4 separate regions of the Homo sapiens genome follow, and all the other regions are linked to region 3. The links come from fine-mapping of genetic effects on gene expression. A gene starts in region 3. Each other region holds a variant in brackets. All regions are shown on one strand. Distances are between the middles of the regions.

The links.
Region 1: its variant is fine-mapped to the expression of RIPOR1 in whole blood (TOPMed, PIP above 0.99).
Region 2: its variant is fine-mapped to the expression of RIPOR1 in whole blood (TOPMed, PIP above 0.99).
Region 4: its variant is fine-mapped to the expression of RIPOR1 in whole blood (TOPMed, PIP above 0.99).

The regions. Positions count from the first base shown.
Region 1 is chr16:67,661,716-67,669,814 of GRCh38, reverse strand. It overlaps PARD6A (par-6 family cell polarity regulator alpha), which reads right to left. Exons shown (of 3, transcript NM_001037281.2): 3 at 7,041-7,919. The coding sequence ends at 7,168. It overlaps ENKD1 (enkurin domain containing 1), which reads left to right and starts at 3,065. Exons shown (of 7, transcript NM_032140.3): 1 at 3,065-3,457; 2 at 3,550-3,744; 3 at 4,647-4,819; 4 at 5,753-5,878; 5 at 5,995-6,158; 6 at 6,259-6,395; 7 at 6,494-6,870. The coding sequence starts at 3,373. The coding sequence ends at 6,654. C16orf86 (chromosome 16 open reading frame 86) reads right to left here and starts at 3,001. Exons shown (of 4, transcript NM_001012984.3): 1 at 2,743-3,001; 2 at 2,290-2,519; 3 at 1,717-1,937; 4 at 1,060-1,615. The coding sequence starts at 2,844. The coding sequence ends at 1,215. RefSeq lists silencers at 2,634-2,683, 2,764-2,813, 2,834-2,883, 3,224-3,493. The variant A/G (reference allele first, on the strand shown) is at 3,770.
Region 2 is chr16:67,421,498-67,429,596 of GRCh38, reverse strand. It overlaps LOC124903702 (a long non-coding RNA gene), which reads right to left. Exons shown (of 2, transcript XR_007065093.1): 2 at 3,066-4,218. Among named protein-coding and RNA genes, the nearest start is that of HSD11B2, 5.6 kb to the left of the region's middle. RefSeq lists enhancers at 513-1,047, 1,048-1,582, 4,778-5,372, 8,092-8,099. The variant T/C (reference allele first, on the strand shown) is at 4,191.
Region 3 is chr16:67,525,564-67,533,662 of GRCh38, reverse strand. It overlaps RIPOR1 (RHO family interacting cell polarization regulator 1), which reads right to left and starts at 4,834. Exons shown (of 22, transcript NM_024519.4): 1 at 4,749-4,834. LOC100505942 (a long non-coding RNA gene) reads left to right here and starts at 4,918. Exons shown (of 2, transcript NR_104656.1): 1 at 4,918-5,346. RefSeq lists silencers at 3,228-3,507, 4,508-4,737, 4,768-4,877.
Region 4 is chr16:67,601,566-67,609,664 of GRCh38, reverse strand. The region is part of intron 2 of CTCF (CCCTC-binding factor); the gene reads right to left. Among named protein-coding and RNA genes, the nearest start is that of CARMIL2, 40 kb to the left of the region's middle. The variant C/T (reference allele first, on the strand shown) is at 3,331.

The sequences.
Region 1 (8,099 bases), 140 kb before region 3:
CTAAGGTAGCTGGGGCAAGAGGAGGGGAATCCCAAGGGGGAGTGACACCATCAGGGGCTCAGGTGTGTGTGTCACAGGGCCACTGGATGGATCCGTGGGCCAAGGGATGACAGGCAGGGTGACCAGTGAGGCTGTCACCTGGAGATGACAGTGGTCCAGGCGACGGTGCTGACTGTGGGGTCCGAGAGGTTCTCAGCCTGAAAGGGTAGGATCACTGGCCTCAATGTCTGCTTAGCTTGTAGGAATCAGGGAGCAAAGAACAGGATGGGGTCTGGGGTGACACCCAAGATTCTAGCTTAAACAATTGTGCAGATGAGATACAGGAGGAAAAGCCAGTTGGAGGAAGGGGAAATTTCCATGAACTTAAAATTCCCTGTGTCTGTTTGTGGTGTCCAAGGAACACACAGGAGGCCCAGGATGTGCAGTTTCCAAAATGGCCAACACTGGCTGGCTCTTCCCAGAGATCCTTGCCGGTTGGACACAGCTGTCATCCAGTGGCTTGGCCTCAGGGTCCCAGATGCACTTACTGCCCCTGTCCACCCCTGCCTGCCAGGAAAACATCACTGATGCCCTGTCACCTGTGACCAGAGGCTACTCCACAGACAAGGTCCGGTCCAGCTATGGTCTGGCAATGAGTAGGAAACATCCCAAAGCTGTCACTGTTGTGACAGGCAAAAGAACTCTGTGCTACCTCCTAGGAGGATCCCAAGTTTTGATCCCCTCAAGGTGAGACCAAATGCAGGCCCTTCCCCAGGAGACAGAAGAGCAGGGCCAAACACCTGCTTCCCATGACCCAACAGACCCTTTCTTTTCTCTGCCCCAAGTTCCTCCTTCTCACTTCCCTCTTCATCACCCAGTTAGCTGCCTGACCCTCAGATTCACCTAAACACACAGCACCAGGTCCACCCTGATTCAGTGAGGCATGGGGTGGCACAAAGGAATCTGTCATTGTCAAAGTCTCAGGTGATGCAGATGACCATTCAGGCCTCAAACCCTGCACTGTTGAGTCCTCCATCCTCTTACCCATTTCAGGCAACCTATCTGGGGAATCACAAAGTCTTTGAAAAAGAAAAATATTTATTTTCAGCAAGACCAAAGTCCCAAGTGGGGGCAGGTGCCAAATTTGCCCCCGCCACCAGAGGGCCTAGGCCCACAGGAAGCCTGAAGCCAAATTCAGGCGTGGAAGGAGGGGAGCCACCAGTGGGGCGGGACAGTCACTTGTACTGAGGAGAGAGCGGGGGGACAAGTGGAGCAGTGCAGACACTCAGCATCTTGTCGATGTCCACCTGGGTTGACTTATCCACCTCGGCCTTGTGGTCACTCACCCCCAAGCTGGGCAAGCCCCCAGGCTCCTCTCCAGCCTCCTCTCCGAGGGGAGCCAGGGCATGGGTGGGGGTCACTAGTGGACTGGGACAGGGCAAAGCGAGGCCTGGGCCCAGCTCACCTGCCAAGGGCAGCAAGGCCTGCAGTTGCTCCACACCTCCCTCCTCGGGAACCGGGGCCAGCTCTGCCTCTGCCTCCACCTCAGCCTCCCCGTCCCCCTTCCCTGCCTGGTTCAGCTCAGGGTTGCAATAGTTGACGTACTGGTACAGCGGCCGCAGGCGCTGGGCCTTTCCTGCAAAGACCCAGGGCAGGGCAGAGGCTAGAGCGCCAGGTTGTGCCATGTCGGGCCCCACAGGCAGGGGGAGAAGGAACAGTCCAGGGACTGCCACTCACGCTCCAGCCTCAATGTCTCTAAGGGTGCAGACACCATGCTGGCCACAGCGTGGAGCACGGGAGCCCCCAGGCTCTTGCGCTTCTTGGCTTTTTTGTGCTGTTTGGCAGATGGTGAGGGCTCACTCTGGCTGTCCTCTGGCTCCTCCTCCTGCAGCGGCAGCTTGGGTGGCAGCTCAGCTTCAGCCTTAAGATGGGCACGAAGGCCCGGGAGGCTGAGAGACCTGAGCCAGGGACAAGAGACTTGAGCCAGGCTCCAGCCCTGGCTCCCATTCCCTGGCCCAGGGAATAGCCCAGCCTGCCCACAGCCCCAGGGCTCGACGCCTGTCCCGTTCCTGGTCAATGAGACCCCAGGCCCAAGAGGCTTAGAGGCCAGTGAGCCCAGGCCCCTACAAGCCCTGAAGCTCCCACTCTCCTGCTGCTCCCTACACGGGGGCTCTTGAGGAACGGGAGGAGAGTGATGGTAGTGGCTGGGGACGAGAATCCTCCCTGCAGGAGTGCAGGATTTAGGAATCCTACTGTGGTGTGTGCCCCAACCCCGGGGCTGCAGCTCCTTCCCCCCGAGAGCCCCCTCACTTGACAGGCTTTCTCTTTGGACCATGACGGGGCCTCACAATGGAGACCACGGGCCTGGGGCCTCTCTCCTCTAGCGCCCCGGCATGCGGCTTGGGCCGCTCCTCCCCCAGCTTGGGTCCTTCCTCCTGGAGCTCCGACTCCGAAGCTGCGCCTGCTGGGCGCTGGTCTTCACTCTGGGTTCCGCGGGCCTCATGGGCAGGCACCAGGAACTGGTCTCCCGCCACTGGACACTAGAGATGACACACAGGCCATCGGTCACCATGGCCGGGCAAAGGACATAGGGATCCGTCACTGAACACCTAACGTTAGACACCGAAACGGGAATAAGGACACCAGCCTGTGCCCCTCCCCGCCTGGAGGGCCCAGCCTGGCAGTTAGCGGGTCGGGGCGCTCAGTTCCACCTCTCAGAGCGCTGCGGCCCTGTGTTTGAAGGTTAAACAGCCTGACGGTCACCTCGGAGGTCTGAGCGCTGCCGGGCTCCTCCGTGAGCTGTCCCTGCCCCACGACCGTCGCCTCCTGGACCCCCGGCCGCCTCTCCGCCCCTGCCGAGGCCATGGCTGCGCAGGCTGAGTGCGTCCTCGACAGCTGCTTGGGGCGGGCCCCAAGGGGCTGGATGGTGGCCCCGCGCTGACCCCGGAGACCGGCCAGCAAGCGAGGGCAGAGCTGGGAAGAGAAACCGGCGACCGCGGAGCCCACCCTCGGCCGAAACTACAAGCCCCAGGACGCTTTGCGCCGGGGTCAGTGGGCCCTGACCCCGGGGACGGAAGCCACGGTTGCCCGGCAACAACAAGTCCCGTCGGGTGGCAGCGGCTGGCGGCAAAACCTCTCGAGTGAGCCCCTGCCCGAGTGCCGCGGGGGAGAGGCCGCGAGCGGGACCGAGAAGTGGGCTGGGAGCAGAGGTCGCGGAGGTGGCGAGCGAGGCCGGGGCCCAGGCGGGGACCGGCAGGGGCCCGGGAGTGGCGGGCACGCCAGGGTCAGGGTGCCGGGCGAGGGAGGGGGCCCGGGGTTGGGGAAGGGGGCCCGGGGAGGGAGGTAAACAGCCCTGCAGGCCTCGGGGCACCGTTGCTGGGCGGCGCCGGCGGCATGTGCGAGGGCCCGTCCCGCATCTCGGGGCCCATCCCCCCAGACCCGACGCTCTGTCCTGACAACTACAGGCGGCCGACCTCGGGTGAGTCCGGGGGCTTGGCGGTGGTGCGAGGCTCAGGGGTCGGCCCTGGCTCCACCTCTGAGCCCCGGACTCCGCCCGGCTCCGCCCCACAGCTCAAGGGCGCCTCGAGGGAAACGCGCTGAAGCTGGACTTGCTGACTTCCGACCGGGCCCTGGACACCACCGCTCCCCGTGGCCCCTGCATCGGTCCCGGTGCCGGAGAGATCCTGGAGCGCGGCCAGCGCGGCGTCGGGGACGTGCTGTTGCAACTCGAGGGGATCTCCCTAGGTCCTGGGGCCTCTCTCAAGAGTAAGTCCCAGGAATGGAAGAAGGG[A/G]CAGAGAGGCAGTGCGGGGTGGAAAGAGATCAAAAGCAGCTGCTCTTTCCACCCTGACGTGGGCCCAGGCTTTGCATCTCTTGAGTCTCAGTTTCCCCAACTATAAAAGGGGGAGAAATATGCTACCTTCTCGAAGGAGGTGAACTGAATGAGGTAGTTCCCACGAAGCCCTAGCTCTGCTTTATGCATTTGTTACCCATTAAATTTGTTTGTTGAGTGCCTACTGTGTGCCAGGCCATATAGATGCTAGAACACAGGGCTGAAGATAAGCATGAGCCATCACTGAGTCAAGGTGGGATACAAAGATCAAGAGATGAATGTCATATATGAGATGATCTATGGTGTACTTCAATGGTGTACTTCACTATAATAATGGAGGAAATCACCTGGGCGCAGTGGCTCACTCCTGGAATCCCAGCACTTTGGGAGGCCCAGGCGGGCAGATCACTTGAGTCCAGGAGTTGAAGACCAGCCTGGCCAACATGGTGAAACCCCATCTCTACAAAAAATACAAAAATCAGGCTGGCATGGTGGAGTGTGTCTGTAATCCCAGCTACTCGGCAGGCTGAGGTAGCCGGGGAGGTTGAGGCTACAGTGAGCTATGATCATGCCACTGTACTCCAGCCTGGGTGACAGAGTGAGACCCTGTCTCAAATAATAATAATAATAATAATAATGGAGAAAATCATCCTGTGATACTTACTACATGAGGAAGGGAACACGGTGATGAGGGAGAGTGTGTGTAGGGTCTAAGGTAGTTGGAGAGGTCAGGGAGCTCTTTCTGTAGGAGGCAGGGGGCAGGCCTGTGTGTGAACTAGTGGAAGTTGGACTGTGTGGGCCCCATGTAGGGCAGAACCTGGGGGCATCTTTTCTCCAGGGAAGGACCCTAAGGACCATGAGAAGGAGAACCTGAGGCGGATCAGGGAGATTCAGAAGCGCTTCAGAGAACAGGAGCGCAGCCGGGAGCAGGGCCAGCCCAGGCCCCTGAAAGCTCTGTGGCGCTCACCCAAGTACGACAAGGTGGAGTCCCGGGTCAAGGCCCAGCTCCAGGTACCTGCTTCAGGGAGCCAGAAGTATTATCCATTTTGTTGGCCAACAGGCAACTGTACCCTGATCTGAGTTCTGGGGTGGGAGGGAAGTCACAGAGGTAACAGAGGACTAAGAGACCCTGGCTCTGCTGCAGGGCGAGGCTGGGGGGCTTCTCAGAAGTAGTGATGGTGGGGCTGATCCTGAGGGCAAGTAGCAATTAGTCAAAGGGACAGCAGAAGAGAACATTCCCAAAAGATGGAACCTCACAGACCACAGGGCACGCAGCAGTGGAGATGCTAGGTACAGTTCACTGTGAGGAAAGAAGGGCGTGAAGTTAGGCCAAGAAGTCAGCTGGACCCACGTCAGGGGCCACAAAAGCCACTTTTCAGCCCTTATTTCTGAGGACAGTGGGAAGGGCAGGGGTATGGTGGGGGGCTCTGTCTCAGGGACTCAGTAGGAGGAGCAGGAGTGAGAGGAAAGGCAAGGTCACACAAATGTGTTGTAGCTGAAGCATCTGTGGGGTTCCCAGGGGGTGGGAGTGTGTCCAGGAAGCAGATGGAAATTCAGGCCTGGATCTCAGGAGTGAGACCTAGGAGTTATTGACGATCAGGTTGAGGACAACGAGACCAAGGAATTGACCGCCTGGATTTGAGGACTTGGAGGCCAGCTGTTAGGAGCCTTGCAGGGCTAGAGCCAGGAAGCTTGGCTAGGAAGGAGGAAAGAGAGTGGTAGCTGGGCCAGTACTGAGGTGGAAGGAGAGATGGTTTGTTGTTTTCTTAAAAATCTGACATACTCACACATTTGTGTGCTGATGAGGACAAGTGTCCCTTGAAGAGGGAAGAGGGCCCGAGGGACATGGATGCAAAGGTCAGAAGGGCCAAGATGGCCAGGGTCTTGCAGCTTGAGCCCCAGACCTCAGCCTGCCTGCTCTCTCTGCTGTGCCCTGCCCTCCAGGAGCCTGGCCCTGCCTCTGGGACAGAGTCTGCCCACTTCCTGCGGGCGCACTCCCGCTGCGGCCCTGGCCTCCCACCACCCCATGTATCTAGTCCCCAGCCAACCCCACCAGGTCCCGAAGCTAAGGTGAGAGGATGTATGGGGGCTAGATGGTGGTTGGGCAGGGCTCCTGGTGTGGGGGGGGTGTTCAGGGACACAACATAATGCTGTCTGCCCCCACCCACGCTTGCTGTGTCCTGCAGGAGCCAGGCCTGGGGGTGGACTTCATTCGTCACAATGCACGAGCTGCCAAGAGAGCCCCCCGGAGGCATTCCTGCTCACTGCAGGTCCTGGCACAAGTGCTAGAGCAGCAGCGGCAGGCCCAGGAGCACTACAATGCCACGCAGAAGGGCCATGTGCCACATTAGTAGGTCTCACTGCCCGACACTCAGGGTGAAGGACACCTGTGGAGGGTGGGAACCAACCTCTGCCCTCGGGTCATCAACTCTGAGCCTGTGTACCCACAGCTTGTTGGAGCGCAGGGACCTGTGGCGGCGGGAGGCCGAGGCCCGCAAGCAGAGCCAGCCGGACCCTGCCATGCCCCCAGGCCACACGCGCATGCCTGAGAACCAGCGGCTGGAAACACTGACCAAGCTGCTCCAGAGTGAGTACCTGGGCAGGGAGGCTGGAGGGGGGCCCCACTGGGGACCGGGCACCCCTGCCCAACACTCACTGTTCTCACTGTTCCCGGGCCCCCTGTAGGCCAGAGCCAGCTGCTGCGTGAGCTGGTACTGCTGCCTGCTGGGGCAGACTCACTGAGAGCCCAGAGCCACCGTGCTGAGCTGGACCGGAAGCTGGTGCAGGTAGAGGAGGCCATCAAGATCTTTTCTCGGCCCAAAGTCTTCGTGAAGATGGACGACTGAGCCCCTTTGGGGGACAGTGGCAAGGAGCTCCATGCTGAGGATCGCCACATGGCTGCAAAGGACAGGGTTGGACCCAATCCCAGAGCAGAGGTCTGAAGACAGGAGCAGGGGGGTGGCCAGTGTCCCTAGAGCACTCTTCCCAGTCACCAGTGGCTGCAGAAGGGCCACCCTAGCCTTTTAACTGCTTTGTCAAAATTAAACATTTTGTACACAGGATTTGTTTCCATAAGAGCTTTTCTTACCCTAAAAATGCCAAGCCTGGTGGCCCTCCTGCTGCTTGATTGCAGGAAGTTCTCCCCAATGTCACTCCTGCCTTAGTCCAGAGCAGAAGGCAAGCTGGTGAGACCAGGGAGGAGGCTGGAACTGGGACACACAAGGACCATGACTGTATTTGTAGAAAACCTTTAATGTTCCCCAGGCTGAGGGAGCCCTGTGAGCCAGCTAAAAACCCCCACTGTGAAGTCCCTGCCATGTCCCAGCAGTGTGGAGTGGCATGGGGCTTCATCCTGACTGTCAGAGGCTGAAGCCACTACCATCTCCTCGAATGCGACTCCCCCAGCCAGAACTGGCCTGCTCCTGGTCATCCAGGGAGGGCAGAGAGCTGCGGGTACCAGGATGTCGGCAGCCAGGGTGCAGGTCCCAGCACGGGGGCCCCTGAGACAGCCCATTGGAACTGGGAGGCTGGCGGTTCTCAATGACCAGGTCACTGCTGTCATCGTCACTATCAGGCTCAGCAGGCCCAGGCCCTGCAGAGGGAGGACCTGTCAAACGCCCAGATGCCCCTCGCACCACGTTATTGCGCTGGTTGGCGGGCTTGACAGTGACAATGAGGTTATGGCTGTTGGCAACCATCATGTCCGTCACTTGGTCCAAGGTCTTCCCGGCTACTTCAATGCCATTGACCTCGAGGATCTCATCACTGACCGCCAGCAGCCCTGTACTCTCAGCCAGACCCCCACGTACCAGGCGGGAGATGAAGATTCCTGGAACCCGCTCCAGGCCCTGGGGAGCCACACGCACGCTCATGCCATCTCGGATGTAGAAGCCCAGGGGGCGGTCTGAACCATGCTTGTGCAGCCGCACCCGTCGGTGGGTCTCAGGCAGTAGGTCCACGTCTATGACTGAGGAAACCTGGCGGAAATCTTGGGGCAGGCTGATTAGCAAGGGTGGCCGGGTGCGCAGGGGTGCCACTGGCCGCAGCAAGAGCCCTTTCTTGCGCCGCTGCAGAGAGTTGGAGGCAAAAGCCAGGCCGCTGGAGTCAGCTTCTGCTGCAGAAGAGGGGGGATGTTGAGATCAGAGACCTGCTCCCCGACTTGGGCTGTTTACAGGGGGCACTGTAGCTATTTCCTACCACTTAGAGGTCAAGCCAAGGGCAGGGACTGCAGAGGGTGACGCTTGGGTACCCTGGGCATGGACTAACCCTTGTAGACCTGCCCCACAGACAC
Region 2 (8,099 bases), 100 kb after region 3:
GCACTTGTGTCCATGGGACTCTGTGGCTTGTCCAGGCCATTTGGTTGTGTCACTCCCTATGCCATGACCCTGTGTGTGCAAGTGAGTACATTTGTGTGCATTGTGTGTGTTTCTGGTAACTCTCTGTCCTTCGGTCTGGGTCATCCTGCCTCTAGAAACTCAGGGAAACATTCCTTTTCCAAAGTCACTGATTCCTGTTGCGGTGAATGTATGGCCCAGGCTTGGAGGCAGACACAGCACCCCTGGCCTGACTTCCTGATTTGAGCTGTAGAGATTGGATTGGCCAGACCCCCCAGCTTTAGCCACCACACCAAGAGTCTGGCTGTGGTTTCTCCAGCCTCAGTCCATTGGAGTCTTCCCCTTGGAGTGAGGAAGGGAGTAGAAGCTGAGATGAGGGTCCTGGGGAGCCTTCAAGGTCAAGGCAACACAGATAGAACCAGCACTTGCTAAAGCAGGAGTTGAAGAGTAGGGGGATGGGGCAGGAAGGCAAGATAAGGAAAGAGGCAGAAGCAGGGTCCTACACTGTCCTGGGAAGGAACCGTGAAGGCCACCATGGGGACAGACTTGCCAGGAGGCGATGTTGGGATTTGCGTTTGGCTGAAGAGTATAACATGGTTAGGATGAGGAAGGGGGTGTTTCCAGCTCAGCTTCTGGAACCTCGTGCCACCTCAGGCAGAGCCATTAGTCTTATGGGATTTGGGTCTTGGTGGGACTGGACCATCTGCCACATTTTTATATAAACTCCCCCTGCCCATTCATCCCACTTCCTAGTCCAAGCCTCCTCCTTCCCAGGACCTATGCTCCAGCTCCTGTGGCCTCCTCAACCACTGACCCCTTATCCCTTATTAGGTGGAGACGTTCTAGAAGTACAAGGTGGTTAGGGCAGTCATTGCTGGCAGAAGCTGGCCCAGCCCTGTCTGAGGCCTGTTGCCAAGTCGTGCCTGCCTAGGGGCAGAAAACCAGCCTCTGCTAGAAGCAGGAGTCTAGGCTGTCAGGGGCCTCCAGGGAAGAGAAGCGGAGAGGGGCAGTGGGCAGGAGCCTCAACAGATAAAGCAGGGCCTGGCAGGGCAGAGGAATGAAGGGTGACCAGGAGCAGAGCACCTGAGCCACTCGGCCCCTAAGCCCTCAGCCCACAGCCTCCCTTAGTCCTTTGTCCCAGCCTCCAACCCGCCTTGGTCAGAAACCTGGTTAACCAAACCCTTAGCACGCCCCAGGCTCTGGAGGACAAAGGGGTGGGCAGGCGGGCTCTGGTCTCCTCCAGCGGAGTCCAGCAGCTCACTGGTACCCTCTGCTGGCCGTGTAGGGAGAGCACGGCTCTGAAGGAGCTAAAGACCAGGTAACCCACCGGCTGCTGGGTTGAGGAGAGGGGAACAGATGTCTACAGTAGGGGGTACCAAGTGGCAGACTCCAGGAGCCCTCTCGCTCTGTCCTCTGACTGTACTTGGGTTCCTGGAGCAGAGCACTCAGCACTGACTTGTCACCTCCTCTTCCCTCTGCAGCTAAGAGGCTGCAGATTCCCAAGGAGCCCCTGCCCTGCACTCTGCTTCACGCCTTCACCCCCACCATGCCTCCTCTTGGCAGAATGGCAGAGGGTCCCTCTTCCTGCCAGTGGCCAGGGTCCTAGACCCCATTGCTCCCTGTCCTCAAAGACAACAAACTTGTATTGAGTTCCTACTGCATGCCAGGCCCTGTGCTGGGCACCACAGATATAGCAACTGACTACTGGCCCCAGCAGCAAGTGTACTGGCGCTAGCCTCACCCATTGGGAACCTCAAGCCCGTATCCCTTTCCACAAGCATCTCTCTTGTGGCTGGGCGTGGTGGCTCACGCCTGTAATCCCAGCACTTTGGAAGGCCAAGGCAGGCGGATCACCTAAGGTCAGGAGTTCGAGACCAGCCTGGCCAACATGGCGAAACCCTGCCTCTACTAAAAATCCAAAAATTAGCCAGGTATGGTGATGCATGCCTGTAGTCCCAGCTACTCATGAGACTGAGGCAGGAGAATCTCTTGAATGTGGGAGGCGGAGATTGCAGTGAGCCGAGATTGTACTACTCACCGCACCCCAGCCTGCGTGACAGAGCAAGACTCTGTTTCAAAAAAAAAAAAAAAAAAAAAAAAAAAGCATCTCTCTTGTGTTTTCTCCTACTGTTTTCAGCTGCATTTCTCTAAAGTTGTCCATAATCACCATCACCACTCTCCCCTCCCAGCCTTTGCCTGGGACCAGCTCCCAATCGTAACCCCCTAGTCCCCAAATCCCATAGACTCATCTCTGGCTTCAGCTAATTTGGCCTCTTCAAAGCCTCGGCCCTGCTGACCTCTCTTTCCTGCCCCAAGCCCTGTCTCCCTTGGGTGCCTGCGAAGCCACGGCTGCCGGGTTTCCTCCGACCTCACTGCCTCTCCTTCTCAGCCTCCTTCTCCAGCTTCTCTTCCTTGTGGGTGAAGCTCTGGCTGTAGAGGCCTCACCCTCGGCCCTCCCCACACCATGAGCTCATCTTTCTACTCACATGCTGGCGACCTCCCTGCTTGCTTTCTGGCCAAGCTCTCCCTTTTGACCACAGGCCCACATGTCCAGCTGCCCCTGGACACTTCCCTTGGACACACATAGGCCCCTCAGCCTCAGCATGTCTAAAGCTGGTCCTGGCAGCCATCGTGCCCCACCACATCCTCAATCTTCATGCCATGCACTGGCCTCCAAATCTCTTGCTGTGTCCCAAGCCCTGGGTTGGGTGCAGATACCTCATCATAGCCTTTGTAGTAGTTGTCATTATCACCATTTTACATTCAAGGGAACTGAGGCTTCCAGAGGTGAAGGGAATTGCTCAAGCTCTCAAGTTCCACTTGCGTTGGAGTCTTGGACCAGCCCCAAGATTCAAACTCAGGTGTACCTGAACCCAAAGTCTGGGCTCTTGAGAACTGTGTTAATACGGGGCTGTGTTGGTCACCTGTGGCATCTTAGACTTCATCCTGAGGGCAAAGGAGAGCTTGGAATGGTTTTGAGCAAATGAGACCCCCATCCCAGGTGGACAGGAAATGGATCTGGGGAAGAGTGGAGGCTGACTAAATTATTATTATCACTCTTAAATTTTATTATGATTATTACTTTATTATTATTATTATTACTTTTAGTTAGAGATGGAGTCTTGCTCTGTCACCCAGGCTGGAGTACAGTGGCACAATCACGGCTCACTGCAGCCTTGAACTCCTGGGCTCAGGCGATCCTGCCATCTCAGGCCTCCGTAGTAGCTGGGACTACAGGCACTCACCACCACACCTGGCTATTGTTTTTTAAATTTTTTGTAGAGACAGGGGTCTCACTATGTTGCCCAGGCTGGTCTTGAACTGCTGGCTTCAAGTGATTCTTGAGGCTGGGAGTCTTGTTCCTGCATCCAGATGAGGGACGGAGCAGAGGTCTGTTCAAACAAACTGAGCTTGAGGCACCCCTGAACATGCAAAGGCTGAGCCCCAAGGCAGGTGGAAGCCTGTGGGCTCCAGCATGTTGCTCCTGTAGCGTGGGAGCCCTGGAGGTTGCCGACTCCCCTCTGATTACCCTAGGCATGAACTGAACTCGCCCCTGCCTCCACCATTTTTCAGAGCTATCCCATCTGGGCTGGGCACCTGGAAACCAGGCCCTTCAGTTACGGAACTGAAGGAAACCTCCCCTCCAGTTACCAGAGAGGGAGGCAGTAAGACACAGAAAGCCAGGAGCATCACTTGTGTTTTCAGCCTGTGTCTGGCACCCTCCTCCGAACTTTTACTGTCTCCAGGATTAAAGGCAGATGTTTGGGGATTAGGGTCCTTGAGTTTGGGAAACAGAGAGAGTATGTTCTGCAGGGCTTTCTGGACCAGTCCCAGGCGGAAAGCAAGCCTCAGCTGAGAGCATTTGGAGGGAGAGCTTGACTGACTCTGGATGAAATCCTTCTAGGATCCGTCTTGTATCCTCCAGTGTGGTTGTGTGTTTGTGGCATGCCAGTCCTTGTGCTTAGCTTGCTTGGTCTTTATTTTATTTACTATCCTCACGTCATCACTATGAAGTAGGTACTATCATTATCCTTATCCTATACATAAGGATAAGGCTACCGACCTTTTGCTATTTGCTGCTCGATTAAAAACAAGTCTCCCAACGACGGAATTGAGGCAACTTGATTGTTAAAACTCATTCCAAACTTGTCTCCTTACAGCTTCCATCACCC[T/C]GATTCAGGCCTTTTCTTGGCACAACAACTGCAAAAGATACAAAAATTAGTTGCTGTTGGCTGGCTGTTTTAATTTATTTGCATATACATAATTCAGCCCCACCCCTGGTGGCTAATACGCCCCCTGGGGAAGCTGTGGCTGTCTTCTGATTGCTGGTGGGGAGGACTGTGTGTGTTGTTTTTTTAAATAAACTGAAACCAGATGGAGGGGGGTTTTGTTCACAGCCTTGCGTACAATTTTCTCCAGCGAATTCCTTGAAAAGTCAACCACCTATGAGTGGTGCCTCTGCTCCGTGGAGGTCCCTCACCGCTGGTATGCAAATATCGAGCAGGGTTGATATTTCTCAAGAAGAAAAAGAGCTTCTTGGCCTGAGGGCTTTCCAGAATGCGGGGTCATCTCCTGGTTGCCCCCAGTTTTAGGTCTGTACTTACAGTTAATGTCCTCGCTCTCCTTCCGCCTTGTGTTGGGAGTGGGCTGGGGCGGGGGAGTCTTGGGCCAGGCTTGAGTCAAATCACCTAGACCAACCACTTGGTATAAAAATGTGAATTCCAGACCCCCACCTATACCCCATTTGCAGCACTGACCTCCGGCACGAGACCCCAACTGTCCAGCTGGGTTGATTTTTGCAGTCAGCGGAGGGGTTATTCTCCTAAAGGGGCCCAAGCCACTCCTGCTTCCATCCTGGGAAGGCCAGAAGCTGGAGGTGGTTATCGAAATATTTTTAACCGCCAGCCAGGTCCAAGGCTTTGTAATGCCCCGGGAGCCCTCATTAAGCGATTCCTTGTTCAGAGAAATGAGGCGAGTGTACCCACTGGTCACCCTGCCAGAGGTTTAGTATTTTTTCTTTGGAACGTGAATTGGGCATTGTCGTAGTGAAGTGTGACCCAGTCCCCAGGCAAGGGAGAGCACTTCTTTCCCAGCTCTGACCTTCATTCCTAGCTCAGAACACCTTTCTTTTGGATTCCAAGCTTTTTCAGATAATTGTGTCAGGTTACATAAGGCTCTGAGATATGAACACTCAAAGGAAATTCCGGTGAGAGCAGGTCTGAGAGGTTCCTGCACATAATTTGCTTTAAAGTATTCGAGGAAAACTTCAGGTGTCTGAGGCCAGCACATTTTTGAAATAAAATAAGAGCAGCCAACAACTTTGCATGGATGTGCCATTCCCCATAGAAATGAGCGAGCAAAAAGACAGATTTCACACTGAAAGGAAATACCCCTCCCCAGGGAGCCTGTGCAGGGGCGGGAGGGGGCTGGTGGGGGAGAGGCGGGAGTCAGTTGCAAGAGAACAGCTTGGACCAGGCTGCCATTGAAATGGAAATCTTCACCAACCAGGATCACTTTTTTCCCCCTTTCTGCATCTTAGGTGACACGTGGTAAACACAAGACTTCAGTTTTCCAAGAAACATAAAATAAAAACTGAATTACTGGCAGAGAAGCTTTAAAATCTTTGGTTCCTGGGACTCTGCGGGCACATTTTCCACACACCATGATTTTTATTTCATTTGCCTCTGAGGGGCGGCCCTCCAGCAGTTCTGTTGCATAAGGTACTGTTTCCAAACACCTTGTCCCCAACTGGTGACACAGAGTAAGTTTTATCTAGGTCTGAGAAGAGTTCTGGAAGAGTGACATCGTGTTCCAAGTCGCACCAGTTACAATCAACAGTAGGAAGGTTGCCAAAGATCTCACCAAGAAAGCTGAGAGAATATTTTAAATACTAAATGGCACTTCTTGCTTAAAGCATGAAGTGGTCGTAAAAACCACTTAACAGGGAAGAAAATTAATGGGAGGAAAGTGCCTTGAATGCAGCAAATTTTACAAAAAGCTTAACAAGGAACATGGAAAAAATAGATTTACTATGTTGAAGAGGTGGGATAATATAGGAAAGTCCATTTTTACACAAAAATAATTTGGTTATTTACACAAGGCTTCACAGAAGAATTCCTATAAGTAGCGCTATCCTTTTTTATTCTTCACGTGTTTGACACACATTTCTTTCTTTATGATTATTATTTTTAGAGACAGAGTCTTGCTTTGTTGCCCAGGCTACAGTGGTGCAGTCACTCATAGGTCACTGCAGCCTCGAACTCCTGGGCTCCAGGGATCCTCCCCTTCTCAGCCTCCTGAGTAGCTTGGACTACAGGCATGCGTCATCATGCACCGCTAATTTTTAAATTTTTTGTAAACACAGGGTCTTGCTATGTTGCCCAGGCTGGTCTTGAACTCCTGGGCTCAAACAATCCTCCCACCTTGGCCTCCGAAAGTGCTGGGATTACAGCGGCCTCAACACACATTTCTTGAGTGCTTAGTATGTTCTGGGCTTAGTAAGTGCTGGGATTACAGCAGCCTCAACACACATTTCTTGAGTGCTTAGTATGTTCTGGGCTCTGTGCTAGGGAAGCAATAGTAAACAATACAAACATTATTCCTCCCCTGTGGGAGGAATAATAATTCCCTCCTCTTCTGTCTGACTGGAGGGACAGGCCCTTATCAGATCATTACACAATCAAGGAGACCCAGAGAGAAGGAACGAGAAAGCAGAGTCCCACGGTGCTATGGGAATGATGGTCTCTATTCTGGGGACCACAGAGGGCTTTCCCAGAGGAAGTAAGTTTCCAGGTAGTGTGAGCTTCAAATGCAAAGGCCGTGGGATAGACAGAGCTGTGGTCAGCCTGAGCCAGGGGGCACGCAAGGTCTTGGAGACTGCGGTGGCCACAGTGAGGAGGAGGTTTCTATTCCAATTTCATGGTATATGGAAATACCTCTCCCTAAGGAGTGGGGAGTGTTGTTGAGGGTTGTAAGCAGGAAGTAAAAGAATCAGCTTGGCGTGGATTTTTTAAATTTTGTTTTTGTTCTAAGACAGCCACAGGCTGTAAGGAGAATGGACTGATAGGGGTGGGGACGGGGACAGGGAGGGCCCCCGTGGAAATCAAGAGCCAGTCAGAAAGCCAGGGCAAGAGATGCTGGTGGCCATGAAGACACGCCAAGTGGATGGGCTGAGTCATCCAGGGCCCATTGGAGAGGGTACTGTGACCCAGACGAAGTGGGCCCAGAGAGCGAGAGCTGTGGCTGATCATCTCCCACCCAGTCTAATTTAATAATTAAATTTACTTCCATTCGTTGATGATGCGGACAGCATCATTTCCTGGTAGAAAGACAAGGACGGTCTGGATGGGAGGCACCAGTGATTACTACCCATCGAGCACTCTTTGGGTGCTCTATATGCATGGCCACATTTTCAGGCCTCATCACAGCCCTAGGCAGTAGCTATTGTTACCCCCATTTCAAATACAAGCAAATTGAGATTATTAAAGTTGAAGAATTTATGGCTGGGTGCAGTGGCTCACGTCTGTAATCCCCAGCACTTTTGGAGGCTGAGGCGGGCGGGTCGCTTGAGGCCAGGAGTTGGAGACCAGCTTGGCCAACATGGTGAAACCCTGTCTCTACTAGGAAAAAAAAAAAAAAAAAAAGCAAAACAAAAACAAACAAGCAAACAAACAAAAACAAAAATTAGCCAGGCATGGTGGTGGGCACCTGTAATCTCAGCTACTCAGGAGGCTGAGGCAGGAGAATTGCTTGAACCTGGGAGGTGGAGGTTGCAGTGAGCCGAGATTGTGCAACTGCACTCCAGCCTGGGTGACAAAGCAAGATGCCGCCTCAAAAAAAAAAATTACCCAAGGTCACCATCTTATAACTGGCACCATGAAGATTGAACCACTAACCTGCCCTGGGACAGGTGAAGAGTGCCCGGAACCCTGGGATCACACTGGCTCTAATTATGGACGTATCTGTTGGTTCAGGCCCAGGGTGGGCTGATCCAGCTTTGTCCCTGTGGAGTCACCTCTGGCAGCTCCCAGGAGCCCTGTAAGTCAGCTCACATGTGTGTGTGCACACCTGGAAAACCACAA
Region 3 (8,099 bases):
TCCAGTTTCTGTACCCACCACTGGACAAGGTCACCAGTGACCTCCCTGTTGCTGAACCCAGTGCCCATGTTTTATCCTTATCCTGCTTGATCTCAGCAAAGCTTTGGACTTCGTGGTTCCCCTCCTCTTCTTTAAGCCCTTCCTTCCCCTGAATTTCAAGAGACAATACGCTGGTTTTCTATCTACCTCTCTGGCTGCATATCTTACTTTCCCACAGAGGCCCCTTCTTTCCTCCCATCCCCGAATGGGCCTTATCCTCCCCGCCCTTGGGCTGTGCACAGATCCCGCAGCTCAATGCCATCTAAATGTTGCCAGCTTCCTTATCTCTCCTCCACCCAAGCCACTCTTCTGAGCACCAGGCCTCTGTATCCAACTGCCTGCTTGCTGCCTCCCCAGATGCAGCGTGCGCTGTCATAGTGCATGCTGGGTTTGAGGTTCCCAAACCAAATTCACCACTTTCCACCTGACTCTCCCTAGTCTCAACTTCTCCATGACACTCCACCATCTATGTACCCCGTTGTTCAAGACAGAAACTAGAAGTCGTCCTGGATGTCTCAGTTAGCCCCTATGACCAGTCACCCCCTCCTGCCAGGTCACCCCCTCCTGCCAGGTCTGGCTCTTAAATCTCTCTGCAATCTGCCCCCTCACCTCTACCCCTATAGCCAGAATTCAGGTCCAAGCCATCACCAACTCTCCCCTCGAGCCCTACAGCTGGGCTTCTGATGAGCTAGAACCTTCCTGAGGGACCTCCTGTCTCCACTCTAACCTGCAATCATCCATTCATTATTCAGTAACAACACTGACCTTAAAATTGTAGCCACTTGACAGTGCCAAAAACTGTCCTTTATTGAGAGCATTCTATATGCCAGGCATTGAGCTTAGCAAACATCATCTCATTTAATCCTGGCAACAGCCTTATGGGGTAAGTCCTATTAGCTCCACTTCGCACCTGAGAAACCTGAGGCTGTGTGACCTTGGGCAAGACACTTATTCAGCCTTTTGGGCTTCAGACACCCATCTGTAAAAAGAGGACAATAATAATAATAACAACAGCTATTTCCCAAGGCTGCTGGGAGGATGAAATGAGATCTCCTCTCATGAGGATGTCCCTCTATAGGAAGTGTTTGGGGAAGGGAGAATTGTATGTGGGGTAGGGACGTTGAGGTGGACTCACTATACCTAATTTTTTTTTTTTTAAGACGAGGTCTCACGCTGTCACCCAGGTCTCAGTGCAGTGGTGTGTTCATAGCTCACTGCAGCCTTGAACTCCTGGGCTCAAGCGATCAGTTTCAGTGCAGTGGTGCGTTCATAGCTCACTGCAGCCTTGAACTCCTGGGCTCAAGCAATCTTACTGCCTTAGCCTCTTAAGTAGCTGGAACCACAGGCATGCACCACCATGCCTAGCTAACATCTAACTGTGAACACACAACAAATACTAACTGCTATTATTTTTAACAGTCACACGGCCGGGTGCGGTGGCTCACGCCTGTAATCCCAGCACTTTGGGAGGCTGAGGAGGGCGGATCATGAGGTCAGGAGATCAAGACCATCCTGGCTAACACGGTGAAACCCCATATCTACTAAATATACAAAAAAAAAAAAAATTAGCTGGGCGTGGTGGCTGGCGCCTGTAGTCCCAGCTACTCAGTAGGCTGAGGTGGGAGAATGGCATGAGCCCGGGAGGTGGAGCTTGCAGTGAGCCAAGATCTCACCACTACACTCCAGCCTGGGCGACAGAGCGAGACTCTGTCTCAAAAAACAAAACAAAACAGTCACACAGGTGGTAAGTGTCAAGACCATGATTCAAACCCAGGCTGTCTGACCCCAGGACTCTAAATCTTTAATATCACTCTATTCAGACTGATGTGAAATAGCCACAGCCACTCTTGTCCCAGGGAGAAAGCCCAGACTCTCTAACATGACCCACGTAGGCCCTTCAGGATTTGTCCTGTCCCTCACATTCTTTCAACCACTCCTCTCCTCCCAGTCCCCTGCTTTCTCTGTTCCAGCAACTGAGACCCTCTCTCAATACCTGCAAGGTTCTTCAGAATCTGACCGGCAGCCCCCATCGCTCCTATTCCTTCTTCCCACTACTCAGCCCCAAGTCCCTCTCCTTCCTCAAGTCTACCCTATGACTTCTTCCTCCAGGAAGCAGGCCCTGGGTTGGTTCCCCCTTTTTGACTTCCTCCCTCTGAACCCCGAGACCACATAACCCAGTTGTCAGTTCTCCTTTAGGGCCTGTCTTCCCACCAGACTGAACCTTGTGAGACCTGGGGCATATCTGCTTGGCTCACCACAGCGCTCTGGGGGTCCTGTAGCACCTGGGAGATGAAGGGGGGGAACAGTGGGGGAAGCTGGGCTGCCTAGACACAGGAACAGCAGGTCCTGAGCTGTTTGTTGGTGGGGAGGATTTTAAGTCTATGTCCACCCCAACTCCCCTACCCGACATGCAATCCTCCCTCTCCCTTCCCACTGGCTGATGGTATCGTATACCATCAGCAAGTGGGGCTCTGCTCCCTGGGATGGTGCAGGGTGGGGATCCCCTGGGATTCTGGACTTGGAAACCGCTGACTGTTCCATCACTTTTCTCTCTCTGGTTGGCCCTCTGCTGCCACCATCCCCCGAGTCCCATAGGAACTAGGATGTCTAACTGTTGGTACAAATGACCATCATAATGTCCATCTGAGTGACCGCTTCGGGAGATGGGCGGGCAAGATTGCCCTTGCTGGGTGAGAGCAGGTAGGGAAAGAGCTGAACCCCTTGAGCTAAGGCAGAAGGGCCACCTCAACTGGTGGGGGACTGGCTGATAAGAACCAGGGGACTCTCTGGGCTCATGTCAGCCCTATAGTCTGTTCCCAGGATGGGAAATAACCCAGATCCAAGGTTCCAAAGGTTATGGGGCTTGCAGCACAGCCAGGTCAGGATGGCCGTGAGTGGAGGAGCCCTGACCTGTCCGCATGGCCCCAGATCTTGCAGCCCCGCTATACTTCCTACACACCAAGACTGGCACACCCGGGTGCGGCGGAATATCCCACCACCTGGGCTGCCCATCTCAGCACTGTGCCAGGCCAGCTGCCTCTCTGGGAGTCCCCGGGTCTAGCCCCGCCCCACCCCGGGGCCGCCCCGACCGAGGTAAACAGAGGCTAAAAATAACCTGGGCAAGGGGCGGCTGCAAGGGAGAAGGGGGTCCCTTCTGAGCCTGTCCTTGTCTCCATGGCAACTGCCCCCAAACCCGGCGGCTGACGTCATCTCGCAGCTGCCCAAGCGTATAGGAGGGAGGGGGAGCGGCACAGCCCCGGACCCCCCACCCCGGAACCGGGCGGAGGCTGTCGGGTGGCCTCACTTCCTGCCGGCCCCCTCCCTGGTCAGCTGGTTACATTCCCTGGCCGCGCGCTGGGAGCCAGGCGGCCTCCCCCGGGCCGGGCCTGGCCAGGGCTGAGTCCGAGCGGCGACGCAGAGGGGCCGCCGTGACTCACCCGCGCCCTCCCCGCCCGCTTCTCTCAAGCGGGACCCAGCCCAGAGTCCTGAGTCCTCCCCTCACCCGCACCCAAACCCAGACCCCTGGGGCGGCTCACCTTGCTCCTCTCTCCCGCCGCAGTCACAGGACCCAAGCCGGAGAGGGCGGTGGAAGAAGGAGCTATGCCAGTCCTCCTTGTCCCGCTGGAGTATTTTGTACCTCAGCCCCCAATTATCATTCCTCTCCTCCCTCCAATACCACGGAGGTGGGTGTCGCAGGGGCAAGGACTCAGATCTAATCCTCGCTTCTCCCAAACCAGCTGTGTGACCTTGAGAATACTACTAACCTCTCTGGGCCTGTTTCTGCATCTGCCAGATGGTCATAACCCTCCTCAGATGCTGTGCGTTGGCCGAATGCGGCAGGCCCAGGGCGCGGCCCCGCAGACTGCAGCCAGGGCACAAGTATTGTTACACGAGGCTGCGCACAGTAGGTGCTGGGGCGGCCAGCCTGGACACACGTTAGAACTGGCTGGGGAGGGTCTGTAGGGGAGGCCGGACTCAGGGCTCACCCTGGAGAGGAGGACAAAGGGTGCTGAATCTGGACTGAATCCGACCTCTAGCCCTGGTGAGCAGCCCCTTGCCCAAACCAGTTCTGCAGAGAGCCCAGGCCCGGCTGTTGCAGGAACCTTGCGCCAACCTCCATTTCCAGGGAAAAGCTCCGTTCCCCGACAAGGACGATCCTCTCCGGCTTCGGCTACGCCAGGTTTGGGCGGAGAGCCCGGCTCCAGCCCAGGCTCGGTCACCTCGGGGCCGGCCACAAAGCCGCTTAGGCCGGCCCCTAGAGCTAGGAGGATTAGCTCAGCTCCTAGGCCGGCCCGCACCCTTCGTCGCCCCCTCCCCATTTCCAGCCCAGCCTCCCCTGCGGCGAAGGCAGCAAGGGCTCCCAGGGAGCGCGCGTGCCAGGGCCCAGGCTGGCGCCTTGAGCCCGCTCTCTGGCCTGGCCCATCCCAGCGCCCCGGGGCACCGGCCGCCAGGGCCTTGCCGTGGGAGGAAGGCAGCAGCGCCAGGCTCTGCAGGCCCGGAGGCGGCGGCTTTTGTGGGAGAAGCTGCGTTCTCCACGCCCGGGGGGAGGGGAGGAAAGACAAGGCGCGGCCGGGGTCCGGGAGATGGGGTGAGGCGGGACAGAGCCGCAGATCCCGGACCCACCGGGCGGCGCCGGCGGGGGGGCACCAGAACCTCCGCGCCTGCTCCCCGCCCGGCCTGCAGCCCCGGAAACGGCGCGGGACACTCACATGGCTGCGCTGGGCTGCGCGGACCTCGCGCTGTCCTTGCGCTCGGAGGTGCCCGGCCTGGTCGCGCCGCAGCTGCCGCTGTCGCCGCCGCAGGCGCCGGCCCCTCCCTCCGCCCGCCGCCCCGCCGCCCCTCCCCTGGCCCGCCGGGCCCCACCCCCTGCGCTCCCGCGGCTCCCGCACCCCTAGAGGCGCCCACGGCTCGCTCCGCCCTCTCGGATAACGGGGCAGGCCGGTGGCCCACGCAGCCCACCAGCTTGCAGGGAGGGCAGACCCTGGGGGATGTGAGGGAGGCTTTCTCACGCAGACCCTAAAACGGTGAGCGCCAGGGAGCCCCGCCTGCTTGTCCCCTCCCCAGATCCCTCGGGCTCTGGAGACCTTGCGGGCCCCCTGTCCGTGACCACCTGAAACAGGTCCTGGAGCTGCTACTGCTGGCTTAGGCTGGTTGGTGGAAAGGATCCAGGGCTGTTGTGAAGGCCTTGGGGAGTCCAGAAGCCGCCTGGCACCTTCTGGGTCCAGACGCTGCCCTTCAGCCCTGCCATTTCAGCCAGCCTCAGCGTCGCTGTAGAGGCAGGCCGCCCTTTCTGCCACTGTCTGGCTGGTAAGTCCAGGCTCATAGCCGGGTCATGCATTCCCCACTCATTGGGTACTGGTTTTCGGGCAGTCTTGGGGTGGGGACGCTGGCAGGGTCCGGGTACAGGGCCATGTGTTGGGCAACCCAGTCCTTTCCAAAGCCGGGGCTAGAATGCTGGCCCTCCACACAGTCGGTAAAGGTGGGGCTGAGAGTCGACCCCATGTTGGGGTCAAAGGGCCAGTTCCACTCCCCCGCTCCTCCCATCAATCAGACACCCCTGGCCCTTCCAACCTGGACACCCCTGAGGCTTCTCCAGGCCTTGCACTCCCGCAGCCCTCATGTATGTCAGACCTACCCAGGAATGGTTTCAGGGACAGTAAGAGGTCCCTGAATATCTGTACCCCGCCCCCACCAGTCCTGAGGGCTGTTTTTTTGTGTGTTTTGCTTGTTTGCTTGGTTTTGTTTGGTCGGGTTTTTTTTTTTTTTTTTTGAGACAGAGTGTCACTGTCGCCCAGGCTGGAATGCAGTGCAAGCTCCACCTCCCAGGTTCATGCCATTCTCCTGCCTCAGCCTCCCGAGTAGCTGGGACTACAGGCGCCCACACCACGCCCGGCTAATTTTTTGTATTTTTGGTAGAGATGGGGTTTCACCATGTTAGCCAGGATGGTCTCGATCTCCTGACCTCGTGATCTGCCCGCCTTGGCCTCCCAAAGTGCTGGGATTACAGGCATGAGCCACCGCGCCCAGCCTGTTTGGTCGGTTTTTTAGAGATGGGCTTTCTTCATGTTGCTCAGACTGGTCTCTAACTGGGCTCAAGCGATCCTCCCACCTTGGCCTCCCAAAGTACTGGGATTACAGGCTTGAGCCACCTCTGCCTCACAGTTCTCCACTCTCCAGCCCCTCCTCTTGGGCTTCCTTTGTAGTGCCCTTTTCTTTCTTTCTTTTTTGTTTTTTTTTGGGGGACGGAGTCTCCCTCTGTTGCCCAGGCTGGAGTATAGTGGCGTGATCTCGGCTCACTGCAACCTCCGCCTTCTAATTTCTATATTTTTGGTAGAGATGTCCCGGCTAATTTTTATATTTTTGGTAGAGATGGGGTTTCACCATGTTGGCCAGGCTGGCCTCCACCTCCTGGCCTCAAGCGATCCACCCACCTTGGCCTCTCAAAGTGCTGGGATTACAGGCATGAGCCACTGGGCCGGTCAGTGCCCTTTTCTCTGAAGTCCTTAAACCTGGGCATGACTTCCAGGGGCTGAGTTCTTCTCTTTATTCACCCTACCCTAAAATATCATCCAGTCTCAGGGCTCCCATCCATTCACTGCTGACCATCCCAAACTTCCCTCTGTGCCCAGAGCCCTCTCCTGTTTCAGAGCCCCTGGCTGCTTTCTGGTTGACTCACCAGTCCTCAGCATTGTCCCCATCCCTACAAAGCACCACTGTCTACCCAGGCATCCACCTGAGCTAGAGACTGGGGTTTTCTGGAGTTCTCAAAGCTGGCACCAATTGGCCTCTGCCCACCCCTAAAGTCACCTCTCAGCCAGGCATCTTCTGAGTACTTTCTCTGCAGACACCCTCTGTTCCAGCCTCCTATTGACTCCTTTCATACTGCTCACCATGGCCAGGCAGCAGTGTGCACACCATGTGTGCTCATGGGCCTGACCCTGCCTGACTGTGTTGTCTCTAAGTAGTGTGCGGGTAGGAACCACAGAAGTCCTTATCATCAAGGTGCCTGGCTCATAGTGGGAGTTCAAGAAATATTTGTTGAATGAGCAAGTAACTGAACGTGTAAATGCATGAGCCCTTGGCATCCCCCTCTCCTGCCCTCACCTTCCTTTAGCTGCCCAGTCCTCTTGCTTCTTTCTCCTTAACATCTTTTGAATTAATTCCCTCCCCCTACCATGCCCACCCACTCCAGAAGATAGTCCATACTATGTGGTAGGGCCTCCAAGGCCCAGGAGATCTGGCCTCAGATGACCTCACCTCCTTATCTTGCACTTATTCTGCGGCCCCTGTGATCTGGCTTCCACTACACTCCCAGCCTGCAGCTCCCTGGATGCAGCCTCCACCCTCTGGCCTCTGCCTTTTTTCCCAGCCTCCCTTCTGCCTAGGATGCTTCTCCCCCTCATCCACTTGGAAAACAGCTCAGATGTCCCTTCCTCCAGGGAACCTGTGTCCTCTGAGCACCCATTACTGCCTATTGTCCTTGTCCATGGCCAGGCCTGTGACCACCAGACCAGGCACAGATGGCGCTGCAGTGATTAAATGGAACACCTGGGAGTTCACCTGGCTCTTCCCCCACATCCAAGGGGCCTCGAGGGAAGGGCAGCATCCCTCCGAGGGTCACAGGGTCCTGGTGGCTTTCAAAGCCTCTCCCTAACAATTGGTGAGCTAAGCACAGGGGAGGACACAGCTTGAAACCCACTTCAAAGAGGAGACACCTGAAGCTCAGGGAAGGCAAGAACTTCCCATAGAAACTGTCACATCGTTGGGAAGGGCAGACTCTGAGCTCCAACTTGGCTCCCTGGGTCGTGGTCAGCTCGGCCCTGTTTGAATCAGGCATCATTTCCTGAGCCCTGTCCTCTGCCTGGGACTCAGCTGGTAGCTGTGGTGTGTGTAGAAAGGAATTATGAGCACTTCTAACCACTGGGAGATCACATTCTCAGAGGGGTGGACTCAGGCCTGAGAAAAATCCCTGGGACAGACAGCAGAGGGTGGTGAGAGCCGCAATGAACCCCCAGTCCTCACACACGGCACTGCTAGTTCCATTTCAGAAGTAATGCAGT
Region 4 (8,099 bases), 76 kb before region 3:
GCGACAGAGCGAGATTCCATCTCAAAAAAAAAAAAAAAAAGAATTATCAGGCCCAAGATGTCAAGAGCACTGAGGCTGAGAAACTCTGATACAGATAAAAGAGTCTTAAAGAGACAGTAATCAATCACAATGCATGAATCTTCTTTGGATCCTGATTCAAACCAATAAATGGTGAAAAAGATGTGACACAAGACAATTAGAAATTTCAACTCTGGATATCTGATGATATTAAAGAATTACTAACAAAACTAATTTAAATCTTACACATGTAGTGGGGAAGACACTGGTAAAGGACATATAATTTCAGTGGGAATAAGTTCAAGAGATCTATTATACAACATGAATATTACAGTTAATAATAACGTATACCTGAAAATAACTGAGAGCAGATTTTTAAGTGTTCTCATCACAAAAAATGACAAGGATGTGAGATGATGCATATATGAATTAGCTTAATTTTCTGCAATTATGGGGTCTTGCCACATTTCCAGACTGGCCTTGAACTCCTGGGCTGAAGCAATCCTCCCACCTAAGCCTCCCAAAGTGCTGGGATTATACATGTGACTGAGCCACTGTGCCCGGGTCTGCCAATGTTTTGTAAAAAGCTTTATTAAGGTAGCTTTATTAAGCACGTGGTGGCTCACGCCTATAATCCCAGCACTTTGGGAGGCTGAGGTGTGTGGATCACCTGAGGTCGGGAGTACGAGACCACCCTGAACAACATGGAGAAACCCCGTCCTAAGTAAAAATACAAAATTAGCCAGGTGTGATGGTGCATGCCTGTATGTAATCCTGGCTACTTGGGAGGCTGAGGCAGGAGAATCGTTTGACCCGGGAGGTGGAGGTTGCGGTGAGCCAAGATTGCGCCATTGTACTGTGCAGCCTGGGCAACAAGAACGAAACTCCGTCTCAAAAAAGAAAAAAAAAAACACTAAATACACCTCCAAAATTTCCTTGTATTTTGTTTTTGGTGATAATATTTATCATGAGATCCATCCTCAACATAATTCAAAGTGCATAATGCTATACGATTAATACAGGAACTATGTTGTGTAGCAGATCTCTAGAACTTACTCATCTTGCATAACTGAAACTTTATACCCACTCAACAGCAATTCCCCATTTTCCCCACCCTGTCAAGGGTTTTTGACCTTGTTTTTTGAAGCCAAACTCAGAACTTAGATCCAGACTGCAATGGCCGTGTTTGTAGACACTGCACAAAACTGCCCATGTCATACCATCAACTTGACATTCACCTCTCTCCTGACAATGAGATCAGGAATTCCCTGAGAATAAGAACCACATCTAACAAGTCGTTTTTTTTTTTTTAATTTTTTTTTTGAGACGGAGTCTCGCTCTGTTGCCCAGGCTAGGGTGCAGTGGCACGATCTCCGCTCACTGCAAGCTCCGCCTCCCAGGTTCACGCCATTCTCCTGCCTCAGCCTCCCGAGTAGCTGGGACTACAGGCGCCCACCACCATGCCCGGCTAATTTTTTGTATTTTTAGTAGAGACGGGGTTTCACCATGTTAGCCAGGATGGTCTCGATTTCCTGACCTCGTGATCCGCCTGCCTCGGCCTCCCAAAGTGCTGGGATTACAGGTGTGAGCCACTGCGCCCAACCGGTTTTTACTTTTTTTTTTTTTTTGAGTCGGAGTCTCGCACTGTCGCCCAGGCTGGAGTGCAATGGCGTGATCTTGGCTCACTGCAACCTCTGCCTCCCAGGTTTAAGTGATTCTCCTGCTTCAGCCTCCGGAGTAGTTGGGATTACAGGTGCCCACCACCACACCTGGCTAATTTTCTGTATTTTTAGCAGATACGGGGTTTCACTATGTTGGCCAGGCTGGTCTTGAACTTCTGACCTCGTGATCTGTCCGCCTCGGCCTCCCAAAGTGCTGGGACTACAGGCGTGAGCCACCACGCCCAGCCACGGTTTTTACTCTTTAGCACTGTGCCCAGGATGGTAAGTACTCAATAAATGCCAACCAAATTGAATATATAATAGAAAGCAGAAAACAAATCAGCCAATTCATAGTTTTTGGCTCTTATATCTTGTGAATGGGCCGGGCACGGTAGCTCACGCCTGTAATCCCAGCACTTTGGGAGGCCAAGGCTGGTGGATCAGTTGAGGCCAGGAGTTCAAGACCAGCCTGGCTAACATGGCAAAACCCCATCTCTACTAAAAATACAAAAATTAGCCAGGCGTAGTGGTGTGCACCTGTAATCCCAGCTACTTGGGAGGCTGAGGCACGAAAAGAACTTGAACCCTGGAGGTGGAGGTTGCAGCGAGCTGAGAAAGTGCCCCTGCATTCCAGCCTGGGCGACAGAGTGAGACTCGGTCTCAAAAACAAAAAATAAAAAACAAACAAAAATCTTGTGAATGACATTACCTAAACAAGAGTAAAATAGGGGCCAGGCGTGGTGGCTCAGGCCTGTAATCCCAGCATTTTGGGAGGCCGAGGCGGGCAGATCACTTGAAGTCAGGAGATGGAGACAAGCCTGGCCAACACGGCAAAACCCCGTTTCTATTAAAAATACAAAAATTAGCCAGGTGTGGTGGCACATGCCTGTAATCCCAGCTACTCAGGAGGCCGAGGCAGAAGAATTGCTTGAACCTGGGAGGTGGAGGTTGCAGTGAGCTGAGATTGGGCCACTGTACTCCCTCCAGCCAGGGCAACAGAGCGAGCCTCTGTCTCAAAAAAATAATAATAATTAAAATAAAATAAAACATATATAGCTGAGTGTGGTGGGGTGTGCCTCTAATCCCAGCTACTTGGAAGGCTGAGTGAGGCTCGAGAATTGCTTGAAGCCTGGAGGCGGAGATTGCAGTGAGCCGAGTGCCACTGCACTCCAGCCTGGAGCCTGGGCGATAAGAGTGAAACTATGTCTCAAAAAAAAAAAAAAAAAAAACCCAAAACAAAACATTGAAGTGTTTTGTATTTTTGGCCAAGAATACAGCTCAAACGAAGCTTTTGTTAGTTCTATTAGACACACTTTTCTCCAATTCTCTGTCTAGGCACCTTAACATTGTATTATATCCATGATAGCAGTCAGAGAAGACTCCTTAAGCCAGGACCACCTGAGAGGCAGCACAAGAACTACTACAGAGAGAATGACATTACCTAAACAAGAGCAAAATAGGGGCCGGGCGTGGTGGCTCACGCCTGTAATCCCAGCATTTTGGGAGGCCTGGTCCTACATTCTAGGAGTTACTGTCTAACATAAAGGACAAAATAGGTAGCACAATGGTTCAAGGTGAAATTACATAGGTTTGGAGAAAGATAACATAACCAGGTGTGATAGAAAAATGCTTCATAAATGTGGAATTTGAA[C/T]GGAACCCTGAAACGTGAGCAGGACATTTAAAGGCAGAGTTTGACAGTGGAGGGCAGAGGATGTATTCTGTAGGGGAAAGGTTTGGATTTCTGGGTACAATAAATACATGTGGGAATTAGTTATGAGTAAGAAAAAGAACTGGCTTAAAGCACAGGACAGAGGAGAGGGTAGTAAGACAGGTGAAAGATGTGCTGGTTGCCCCCCATAGTTTGGATGGTCTTGAATAACAAAATACCTCAGATGACTGGCAATGGAAAACCACTTATGCTTTCTGGGCAGAGAAGTAAAGATTCACTCATTTCACAAAGAAGAAGACTTAATTTCCTCAAAAAGTGTGTCTCTACTTTTGCAAAAACTACATGATGCACTTACCACCCTTCTGGCTCACAAAGCCCCTTCGTACCTGACCCCATGATAACCTATTCAGATTTATGTCTTGCCCTCTAGCACTCTCCCCTTCAGTCAAGCTGTCTTTTCATCCAGACACAGTTCCTACTGTCATCTCCCTGTCTTCACTCTGTACTTTACGTCTGATCCACTCCTCTCAACACCAGCTCATCCCTGGCACAACAAAGCTTTCTGAGGTTCTTGTGGCCACTACTTTGCTCCAAATGTGTTTCTGATAAAATAAGGACACAGTTTAGCACTTAAAATTTTCTCAAAACGATCTATTTTCCCAGTTGGGTGTGAAAGCTCTTTAAGGGCAAAAGCCGGGCTTGAAGCAACATATACTTTTGGACAGATTCAGCAAACCCCACCATCTGCCTGGAAAAAAACAAGGCTCAAGGTAAACTCCCGAGGTTGTTGGATTGCCAGTTTGGTTTATTCTTCCATTACCTTCTTTCTTTCATTAGTCCCTTGTTCTCAACAACCAAGAGAAAAATACAACAACATCCAATGCAAAGGCTTCTTACTATGCTGTTCCATGACAGTGGGGACAAATATAAAAAAATGTTACCGCAGAAGGTGGGGATCAAAGAACATTTGTAGAATGCTTTATAATTCACCTATAAATTAAAAATGAGCAAAGTGCTAGTATTTTTATTATAAGATGTCATTTAGGCCAAGCGTGGTGGCTCACGCCTGTAATCCCAGCACTTTGGGAGGCGAAGGCGGGTGGATCATGAGGTCAGGAGACCGAGACCATCCTGGCTAACACGGTGAAACACCATCTCTACTAAAAAATACAAAAAATTAGCCAGGAGTGGTGGCGGGTGCCTGTAGTCCCAGCTACTCGGGAGGCTGAGGCAGGAGAATGGCGTGAACCCGGAAGGCGAAGCTTGCCATGAGCCGAGATTGCGCCACTGCACTCCAGCCTGGGAGACAGAGCGAGACTGTCTCAAAAAAAAAAAAAAAAAAAAAAAAAAAATCCCATTTATACCTCTGATTGTAAAAGACTAAGCATAATCCTAACTATAATTAATTTTATATACTCAGTACTGTTCAGACAGATTATCTTTAGAATATAAATTCTCTAGGCTGGCACTGTTCAATAGAAATATAATGCAAGCCACAAACATAAGCCACATTATATGTAATTTTAAGTAAAAAAAATTCATATTAAAAAGTAAAAAAAAAAAACAAAAAACAAAAAAAAAAAAAACCCTGGTGAAATTAATTTTAGTAATCTATTTTACTTAACCTGGTATGTCCAAAATATCATTTCAAGGTTTCATCAATTTAAAAAATTGTTGGCCGGGTATGGTGGCTCATGTCTGTAATCCCAACACTTTGGGAGGCCAAGGCAGGTGGATCATGAGGTCAGGAGATACAGACCATCCTGGCTAACATGGCGAAATCCTGTCTCTACTAAAAATACAAAAATTAGCCGGGCGTGGTGGCGGATGCCTATAGTCCCAGCTACTTGGGAGGCTGAGGCAGGAGAATGGTGTGAACCTGGGAGGTGGAGCTTGCAATGAGCCAAGATCGCGCCACTGCACTCCAGCCTGGCAACAGAGCGAGACTCTGTCTCAAAAACAAACAAACAAAACAAAAACAAAACTAACAAAAAAAATTGTTATGCTTGAGACACAGACTTGCTCTGTTGCCCAGACTGGAGTGCAGTGGTAGGATCACAGCTCACTGTAACCTCCAACTCCTGGGCTCCAGTGATCCTCCTGCCTCAGTCTGCCAAGTAGCTAGGACTACAGTTTATGCCACCATGCTCAATTAATTTTCTTTTCTTTTCTTTTTTTTTTTTTTTTTGAGACGGGGTTTCCTCTGTTGCCCAGGCTGGAGTGCAGCAGAATGGTCATGGCTCATTGCAGCCTTGACTTCCTGGGCTCAGGTGATTCTCCCACCTCAGCCTCCCGAGTAGCTGGGACTACAGGTTCATACCAGGCACCAGGCTAATTTTTTTGTATTTTTAGTAAAAGTGGGGTTTCACCATGTTGCACAGACTGGTCTCGAACTCCTGGGCTCAAGTCATCTGCCCGCCTCAGCCTCCCAAATTGCTAGGATTACAGGCATAAACCACCGTGCCTGGCCTCTAATTTTTTTTTTTTTTTTTGAGACAGAGTCTTGCACTGTTGCCCAGGCTGAAGTGCAGTGGCGCGATCTCAGCTCACTGCAAGCTCCACCTACTGGGTTAACGCCATTCTCCTGCCTCAGCCTCCCAAGTAGCTGGGACTACAGGCTCCTGTCACCACGCCCGGCTAATTTTTTGTACTTTTAGTAGAGACGGGGTTTCACCGTGTTAGCCAGGATGGTCTCTTATCTCCTGACCTCCTGATCCGCCCGCCTTGGCCTCCCAAAGTACCAGGATTACAGGTGTGAGCCACCACACCCAGCCTTTTTTTTTTGAGAGGGAGTCTCCCTCTGTCGCCCAGGCTGGAGTGCAGGGACTTGATCTCGGCTCACTGCAAGCTCCGCCTCCCGGGTTCATGCCATTCTCCCACCTCAGCCTCCTGAGTAGCTGGGACTACAGGCACCCACCAGCACTCCCAGCTAATTTTGTTTTTGTATTTTTAGTAGGGACGGGGTTTCACCATGTTAGGCAGGATGGTCTCGATCTCCTGACCTCGTGATCCCCCACCTCAGCCTCCCAAAGTGCTGGGATTACAGGTGTGAGCCACTGCGCCCGGCCTAATGTTTTCTTTTTTTGTAATTTTTTTTTTGTAGAGGTGTGTTGCCCAGGCTGGTCTTGAACTCCCAGCCTCAAGTTATTGTCCCATCTTAGACTACCAAAGTGCTGTGATTACAGGTATGTGCCGTCGTGCCCAGCTATATCTTACATTTACAGCATACCTTAATTTGAACCAGTGAAACTCTAAATTCTCAACAGCAACATGAGGCTAGGGGCTTCCGTACCGGACAGCACAACTTTGTACTTGTTATTCAAAGTATGGTCTGAGGACCAGCAGCACTGGCTTCTTAAAAACACAGAACTTCAGGTCCCACCCTTGACCCACAGAATTAGATTTTGCAATTTAACTTTATACTATTACTGTTTCCCCATTAAGATTTTCTTCTCTTTTTTTTTTTTTTTTTTTGGAGATGGAGTTTCACTCTTGTTGCCTAGGCTGGAGTGCAATGGCGCAATCTCGGCTGAACACAACCTCCGACTCCTGGGTTCAAGCGATTCTCCTGCCTCAGCCTCCCGAGTAGCTGGGATTACAGGCATGCGCCACCACACCTGGCTAATTTTATATTTTTAGGAGAGACAGGGTTTCTCCATGTTGGTCAGGCTGGTCTTGAACTCCTGACCTCAGGTAATCTGCCGGCCTCGGCCTCCCAAAGTGCTGGGATTAAAGACATGAACCACCGTGCCCAGCCCCCAGAAAAAAACTTTTTAAGAGAAGTTTTTCAGTCCCTGAAAAGCCCCAAAAGTTAGTATCCCTGCAAAGGGAATGATAATCCAGATGTCTGGAGCTAGGGAACATACAAAAAGCCCAATTTACTTCAGAGTGACATTCTCAGAAAAGGTATCAAAGAACAAAAAATTGAGATGCTGTGAATGTAAATGTGGTGACCCTGCCAGAGTCACTACATAATCCCAGACTATTTAAATATCCTCAATAATAAAATTGGTAGAGGAAAAACAATCTTTGGGGTCTCCAGGATTTTGTAGCATATAATTTGATGCTACAACTTGAAGACAACGGAAAAAAATTCTATCTGGTCTCTGGTGTGAATTTGAAAACTTAAAATGTTAAAAATTGCTTGTAAACAGGCTGGGCTGAGTGGCTCACGCCTGTAATCCCAGCACTTTGGGAGGCCGAGGCAGGCGGATCACCTGAGGTCAGGAGTTCACGACCAGCCTGACCTACATGGTGAAACCCCATCTCTACTAAAAATACGAAAATTAGCCAGTTGTGGTGGCAGGTGCCTATAGTCCCAGCTATTTGGGAGGCTGAGGCAGGAGAATCGCGTGAACCCTGGAGGCGGAGGCTGCAGTGAGCCAAGATTGGGCCACTGCACTCCAGCCTGGGTGACAGAGGGAGACTCCATCTCAAAAAAAAAAAAAAAAATTGCTTGTAAACAACCGAGTCCAACCTAAAAGAGGTCACAGAATTATAAACCAGGTAGAAAAAGAAGTGGTACAAAAGAGTACAAATAGAAACCAACTGTGCTTCCAAGAAGTTGAGCTGACAGAGTACTGTCTCACTGAAAAAAAACACATGGCATAAAGTCCACAAAACAACAGCATCTACTCGGTCTTAAAGCAATAGCTTCTATTTTTAATAGAGAAAAATCAGACACAAAGTAGCAAGCCATCAGCCTCTCAATACACTGCTCAGAATCTCAGAGCATCCCCGAGGTCAGGAGA